2 linked regions of the Homo sapiens genome follow. The protein of the gene in region 2 purifies or fractionates together with the protein of the main gene of each other region. This does not show direct contact. Each region holds a gene or a part of one and is shown on either strand. Other genes may lie near its edges. The genes, in order: AMOTL1 and DEAF1.

The links.
Region 1: the proteins of DEAF1 (region 2) and AMOTL1 purify together in Homo sapiens (affinity purification with mass spectrometry, with the first as the bait; one large-scale study listed by BioGRID). This does not show direct contact.

The regions. Positions count from the first base shown.
Region 1 is NC_000011.10:94,799,141-94,802,957, reverse strand, and holds part of AMOTL1 (angiomotin-like protein 1), read right to left. Parts: intron 3,569-3,817; coding exon 2,647-3,568; intron 2,620-2,646; exon of another isoform or gene 1-2,619. UniProt on the Homo sapiens protein: Inhibits the Wnt/beta-catenin signaling pathway, probably by recruiting CTNNB1 to recycling endosomes and hence preventing its translocation to the nucleus.
Region 2 is NC_000011.10:681,685-685,501, forward strand, and holds part of DEAF1 (deformed epidermal autoregulatory factor 1 homolog), read right to left. Parts: intron 3,280-3,817; coding exon 3,214-3,279; intron 1-3,213. UniProt on the Homo sapiens protein: Transcription factor that binds to sequence with multiple copies of 5'-TTC[CG]G-3' present in its own promoter and that of the HNRPA2B1 gene. Down-regulates transcription of these genes.

The sequences.
Region 1 (3,817 bases), about 94 Mb from region 2:
ATGACAAACAGATAACCCTTTAAGCACAAGATAATGTGTCAGTGAAATGAAAGGGGCCCTACTTGTCTTCTGGGTCACAGGCAAGTTGAACATGACACACTGCTGAGTTTCAGGTCCAATCCTTCGAGTTCAGGCCACGTTAAATGTGTCTGAAGCAGGGCTGGTGTGGATGCAATATTGTTTACCCAGTCAGCCAAGGGCTGCACCACTGGAGCCATGCTGGCTAGCCATGGCCCTGTTCACAAAGGGGCCTTGTGGCTCTGGGACCCAGCCTCAATGGCCTGTCTGTTACGTCTCCTGAGACATTTGATGCGTCATATTAACCAGCTGCCAAGCCTGGCAGTCAGCTCAAATCCCTCACACATTTCTTCTTCTTTCTAACGTCATAACTTTGAGAAAAATGACCTCCAAAAGTGTTCCCCTCCTCCCCTGACCATTTCTCCCACCTCACATCACACCTATTACCAAATGACAAAAGGCAAAGTGATCCACTGTATGCATTGCACGGTATGTACATATTACTTTACAAATAGTAAAGCAAAGAAGAGGAAGGGGATTTCATTTCAGGATAGCTTCCCCTCTATCAAGCTCTAGAGGCTGAGTTAAGTTATCAGGGAAAAGGGTGAAATATAATAAGCCAAACTCTGGTATGATGGTGGAATAACATCATGGCTTATTTTAAACAACTGTGGTAAATCACTGTGATGCAAATACCAGGGATTTGATCAAGGAGCTATAAAGGGGGAAGAAGAGCCTCCTGGATCCCATCTTGGATTCCTGGGAGGAGTCCGGTTATGCCCACTTAGGGAGAATGCGTTCTCCTGCCTGGCCAAGATCTCACAGTTGGTTATGCTGCTTCTGAGCTGGCATTCTCAGTCTAATGTGGGGAAATGTGTCAGTGCTGGGAAGCCAGTGGCAGATCAGGCCACTCTCCCTCTGCCAACCTCCAGCCTCTCCTTTTTCAGAAGATGTACAGCCAAGGTATGTCCTGCACATAGCCACTGAGGTCGCTTGGGAAAACCCTGGCTTGTTCAATTTAGAAACAGATAATAAAGCCCTTCATGAAAATGACACATCCAATAATAGGCAGTGGCCACATGTCTTTTCTGTTCATGTTCCCTGCCCCTCCTTCAATGTCAGCAACATCTAAACATTTCTGACTCCCAAAGTGTGATCTTCAGACCCAATTTCTCTCCTGAGAGTTTGATTCGTAATTCCCTTATTTCCATCATCCCTATTCCAGAATTTCTGTATCTAACCAATCCCTAAACCCTGTCAGTTCTATTTCCCTACCTCTCTTAGCACATAATGCTCCTCTATTCTCCCTGCCCAAGCTTTGGCCACCCTCACCAATTCTGATCTGGACTACTGAAAGCATCCCTGGAGCTCCTTGTGGCGTGGGGCTCCCTTTCCTCTAATTCATGCACTGCCACCAAAATCAGCTGTTAGACATCCACTTACCATCCCTACCTAAGAACACCGCTTTTCCCGATTGCTTATGGATACATTCTAAACTCCTTAATACGACACCCAGAGACCGTCATCATCAACTTCCCTGTCCAAACATACCTCAACCAAACGGGTCCCAACTTCCCTGTCCAAACATATCTCCTGTCACTTCTTACCACACCCTTGCCCACCAGTGCTCTGCATTATTGCCACTCATTCCAGACAAAAATCCTCATGACCTCTTTGTCTGAAGACACGGCACTCCCTCACACAGCACATACTGCTACTTCATCTCTACCCTACAACTCTGATTTATCCTTCAAGTTCCAACTCAAATGTCACCTCCTCTGGGAAGCTCTCTCCAGCCCCTCCAGTTGTGAGTTATACTATCCTACCTGTTACCCTAGCATCCTCGGCCCATTTCTCTCCTAGAACAGCACATTGAATGGCAATGATCTGTTCAGATGCTGGTTTCCTCCAAGACAATGCTATAGGGTCCTGAAGGGCAGGGACCCCATCTCTGAACCAGGAACAGGGCTTCAGAGTACAGCATACACTCAGTAGGTGCTGCTGAATCCATCAATCAACTGGAAGAATACAAGTGAAGGCTGTAGGAAGAATTAGGGCAAGGGAGTGAATAGATTTTGGCAGTCAGGATACTTGAGTGTAGCCCCCAGCTGCCTCAGAGTTGTGTCTATGAAATTCATTAATCTCTCCAGGCTTTAGTTTCTCATCTGTTGAGTGAGGGATGGGACTATGTGATTTCTACAGTCCCTTTAACTCCTCCATTCTAGCATTCAGACTACATTTTCCTTTAAAATCTACAATGAAAAAAGACTATAAAACCCTCTGGTAATAATATGTTCCAGGAGTTTGGACGGTCTCCACAAAGCCATTGGAAAATTGCTACTTTGCCAGGCCACTAGGCAGAGCTCCCAAGGACAGCTAACAAGTGAGGTCCCTCCCCTAAACTCATAAATCCCCAACTGCCTGCTGCTATGTTTGGAGAAAATCCCTCAGTTGCCCTCTACTCTATTTCACCCTATATATTCTGGCCACAAAGTGGTTTATTAAATATCATGCATAAGGAAAAAAGCCTGATGACAAAAACCTAATCTGCTCTGAAAATAATAAATGCTAATAACATGACTATTGAATTTTGAAAAGCCGCACGAAACGTCTGCAGTTGATAATCACCTCGTTACCCCATACTCAGGGGGTGGCTGGTACCGCAGGACGGCCACATCTGTTCTCACAGGCTGAGGAGCAGGGTAGGGCTTGACCATCTCGTGGAGCATCCCGGGGTGCTGGTCACCATAAAAAAGTCCGTGCTCCTGGGTCTTGCTGACTGGGGACATCATTTGCTTGGTCTTGAAGGGGTACTCAGGTGGAGGACCCCGAGGGTCCAGCACTTTACCTGCAGGCTGGGCAGGGGAGGGCCCCCCTCCTACTTTGAAGCCCTTTCCATTCCCCGAGCCGGGAAGGTGTTGCTTGGCCCCATTCCTCTCCAGGGACAGCTGCATGATTCTCTCGCTGAGCGAGCGGACGTGGCCCTGCTTCAGTTCCTTCAGCGCCTCGTCCTTATGCGCCTGTCCACTGTTGGCACGGTTCACAGTGGGCCTCCCCTCAGTTCGGGACTTCTGACTGGTGCCCCCTGCCATGTAGTAACCATGGCCCACCGCCCCCTGCTGCTGTTGCTGCTGCTGCTGCCCCCTGAAGAACTGCGACTGTGCTTTGGCCTCCTCGTAAGTGGGCAGTTCCTCGTTGTTCTGCTGAGGCTGCGTGGACCGGACCTGTTTCTCCATCACCGTATTGTCCACCTGGTGTTCTTGACCCTGCGGTTCTTGGCGTGCTGACTGGTAGACCATTTGTGGGTCTTCTTGAGTGAGGTTTTCCGTGGAAGAAAAGTTGTTTGTAGGATGGGCTGGTCCTGCACTCCCTGTGGCCTGGTGCTGAATGGCCAGCAAGTTCATGTTCTCGGTTGGGGTGCCATACCGCAGTTGTTCCTGGATCAGCCGCTGCAATACTGTTCCAGCTGCCGCATCCTCGGAACCTCTCATTTCCACCTCTGAGATCCTCAGGAAGTTTGGGGAGTGGAAGTTACAAAGAGGATCTTCAACTAAAAGATAAACATAGGAAAAAAGATATCAGGCAGCTCCACAGGAGATATATGTCTGTGACTATGTGGTACATAATTAACATTCTAACTACAGCAACATTTAAAAATAAGATTTCAAATGCATCATCACCTCCATTTACCTGGCAATGTCTCATGGAATTTTCTTCTCCAATTCAAAGCGAGTCTACTATTCTGCACTCCCTCTCCTCTGCTTCCTCTTAAACATTGTTCCATCCTTCAACCCCTCCC
Region 2 (3,817 bases):
CAGGCGTGAGCCACCACGCCCGGCCGACTTTTTTTTTTAAATAATTTATATCTCTTCATTGACATTCTCCAGTGAGGAGACAGTGTCTTCAGACCTTCCATGCAATCTCTAGCTGTGGTTTCCTTCAGTCCTCTGAACATACTGAGGATAGCCATTTTAAAGCTTTTTCCTGTTAACCCCAACATCCGGACCTCTCCAGGCAATTTCTGTTGCCTGCTTTCTTCCTGTGTATGGTCCAAGGCTCCTTGCATGTCTTATCATCTTTTGTTAAGAATCAGACACCGCAGGTGATACATTGTAGCAACAGTGGAAAGCAGTTCTCCTTTCTCTGGGATCCTTGCTGCTGTCAGCTTGTTTATTACTCAGGTACGGAGCTGGACTATCTTACTGAGCCTGTTCTCCTGGGGCGGCCTCGGCTGCTGCTCCTCTGAGGGCTCGGCCCTGGGTGGGGTGCAATCACCTTTGGTGGTGGGAGTTTTGGCTGTCGCTCTTCCTGATCTCTGTTAAGCTGTTGGTGTAGTCAAGTGTCAGAATCAACTAACTGCCAGCTGCCTGCTCCATTACTTTCAACAATGCCCTGGGGCACACACTGCTCCACTGTCTGAGCCAATTAAATTAGGGCTTCTTTACTGAGAGGTTCGATCTTGAAGGTCGGTTTCCCAGATGGGTTCTTCGCTGTGGCTTTCCTCGCCTCTCTGGTAAACCTGCTGACCTACAGTTTAGTTTCTTGCTCTAATGGAACTGCTGGCCTCCTCTTAACTGCTTACCATCAAAATGTCCATTCTTTTCCAGGGCACTTTTAGGCTTGAACATCCCCATACTGTTTCAAATCAAGTCAGTTCCTTTGGGAGGGGCTTTGGAGCTCTCTGTTCTTACGGCCTCTCTCTCTTTTGGGCTGAATGTCTGAGCCCCTACTATAGACCTAGAGGCAGGAACAGTGCCTGAGTCTATCAGAGGGAATTCTGTTGCATTAGCCGGGTTCTGTGTGGGGGGCAGCAGCCTCTCACTGCATGGACACCCCACCCTATGGGCAATGTGGGTTGATGGAAATTGGGGCTCCGTATGCTTGGCCTCCCATGCCTGGGTAAAGCCTCTGCCCTCTGAGTGGGGATGACTGAAGAGATTTTCAGTCACACTTCCCAGGAATTTACTGCAACTTAGAGCTGAAGGGGTTGAGAAATGCTGGTGGCCTGCCCCTCCCAGTGAGATACCATATCCCTTGACCGGGAACTGCAAGGAGTGGGAACCGTTTTCTTGGTCACAACCACCCACAATGGAGCCTCCACCATAGGGAGCTGGGGGCAGAAAGGGAGGGAAGGAGCTGGTCGTAGCTCAAACGTCACAATCCTCACTGCCCTTTCCAAGACTTACTACATTTTCTTGGATGTTTATTTGCTGTACTCCCCTAGGACAATTTCTGGAGACCTTAAGGGGTTATTTTTTCACAATTTTCACTAGTTATTTCTCTGGAGAGTTGGTCCACTGAGCTCATCACACCACCACTCCCCAAGCGGAAGCCAAAAGTTCTAAAATTTGATGAAGTCCAATCCAAGAAATCCTAGTTCTAACTCCAGGTCAGGAAGATTTTCCAATGTGTTTTCTCCTAAAAATGTTATAGTTTCACCTTTCACTTTAGATCGATGACCCATTTTGAATTCATTTTTGTACCAAGTGTGAAGTTTAGGTCATCCTTTGTCTCTGCTGATGAACGTCCTGTCACTCCAAGGCCATTTGCTGGAGTCTACTATGACACTCTAGTCTGACCCAGATCGTGGGGTCTCTCCCTCTGCCAGTGCCACACTATCTTGATTACTGTCACGAGCCCGTAAGTCTTAAGACCCCGCAATGTGATTCCACCCATTTTAAACTTTTATTTCAAAACTGTTTTGGCTTTTTTGTTTCAAAACTGTTTTGGCTTTTTTATTTCCTTTACCTTTCTATGCAAATTTTAGAATCAGCTTGTCTGCATCTAAAAAGAATCCTGCTGGGATTTTGATAGTCATTGTGTTAAACCTACGAATCAACTTGGGAAAAAGTCGCATCTTTACTGAGTCTTCTAATCCACGGGCGCAGGACGTCTTTTGACGTATTTCAATCTTCCCTGGTCTCTCTCTTCAGCATTTTCTTTAGTATCTTCCACGTACAAACCCTGTACATGATTTCCTAGACTGACATCTAAGTACTTCAGTGTTGGAGCCCCTGCAAATGATCTACCTGCAGGCTCAACTGCCAATGGGACCGACGTCTCCTCCCGGCTCCTTTACTCCTGCAGCGTCTCTAAGAGTCTCACCGACTGGCTTTTCCCAATCAACTTCAAAATTATTTTACGTTCACAAAATTGTTTTTTCCACTAGAATCACATGAAATCTATATATCAACTACACAATTCTAGGATGTTTAGTGTTTCACCCCAAGAACACGGTAGGTCTCTCCATGCTCTTTTTTTTTTTTTTTGAGGTGCAGTGGCTCACGCCTGTAATCTCAACACTTTGGGAGGCTGAGGCGGGCGGATCACATGTGGTCAGGAGTTTGAGACCAGCCTGACCAACATGGCAAAACCCCATCTCTACTAAAAATACAAAAATTAGCTGGGCATTGTGGCACATGCCTGTAATCCCAGCTACGCGGGAAGCTGAGGCAGGAGAAGTGCTTGAATCCAGGAGGCGGAGGTTGCAGTGAGCCGAGACCGCGCCACTGCACCCCAGTGTGGGCGACAGAATGAGACTTCGTCTCAGAAAAAAAAAAAGAAAGAAAAATTATTTTGGGTCTTTGTGAAGCAGTTAAGAATTTAGAATAAGGAAATACGTCAAAAAGGCGTTAAAAGCTCTACACATGAATAAGTTTACAGTAGCATTTTTCTGACATGTTACAAAATGAGGAATATAAAATGGCATGCATACAAGGAAAAGCGTGTATGTTTAGTTTTAGAGTTAAGGCGGTGACATTATAACCGCTTTTCATTATTTAAGGTTTCCACAAATGTTCTTTGAGCAACATCTTGGGGGCCAACCACGTGTTCCCCATCGAGACATCAGGATTCACTGTGACGTATCAGGGAGGAGGGAACAGAGCAACCCAGGAGAAGTGAGGACAGTGTCTCTCTCCAAGGCAGAGGGCAGGAGGGAAACAGCCGAGAGGCCAAGGGCTGTGGGACCCACTCAGCCGCCCCCAGCCCCACCAAGTCATCCTGTTCCAGACACGCTGGCCACTTACTAAGGTCATGTCGTCGCAGCAGGCAGCACAGGTGCAAGAGGCAGCGTGAGGGTTTAAGATCCCATCCTGAGATGTGAAAAGAACCACCATGCATTAGCAAGTCAGCCCCTAAATGTCAATCATTCAATAATAGAAGATTTCAACCACTTTTACCACTTACCTACCATTCATAAATATAAAAATTCTTTTTTTTTTTTTTTTTTTTGAGACAGAGTCTTGTTGGGTTGCCCAGGCTGGAGTGCAGTGGCACGTTCTCGGCTCAGTGCAACCTCTGCCTCCCCGGCGCAAGCAATTCTCATGCCTCGGCCTCCCAAGAAGCTGGGATTATAGGTTTGCACCACCACACCCAGCTAATTTTTGTATTTTTAGTAGAGACAGGTTTTGCCATGTTGACCAGGCTGGTCTCGAACTCCTGGCCTCAAGCAATCTGCCCGCCTCGGCCTCCCGAAGTGCTGGGATTACAAGCGTAAGCCACCGTGCCCAACCTCATAAAGATAAAAATTCTGCAAAATCAGGGCCGGGCATGGTGGCTCATGCCTGTAATCCCAGGACTTTGAGAGGCCGACGCAGGCAGACCACCTGAGCTCAGGAGCTGGAGACCAGC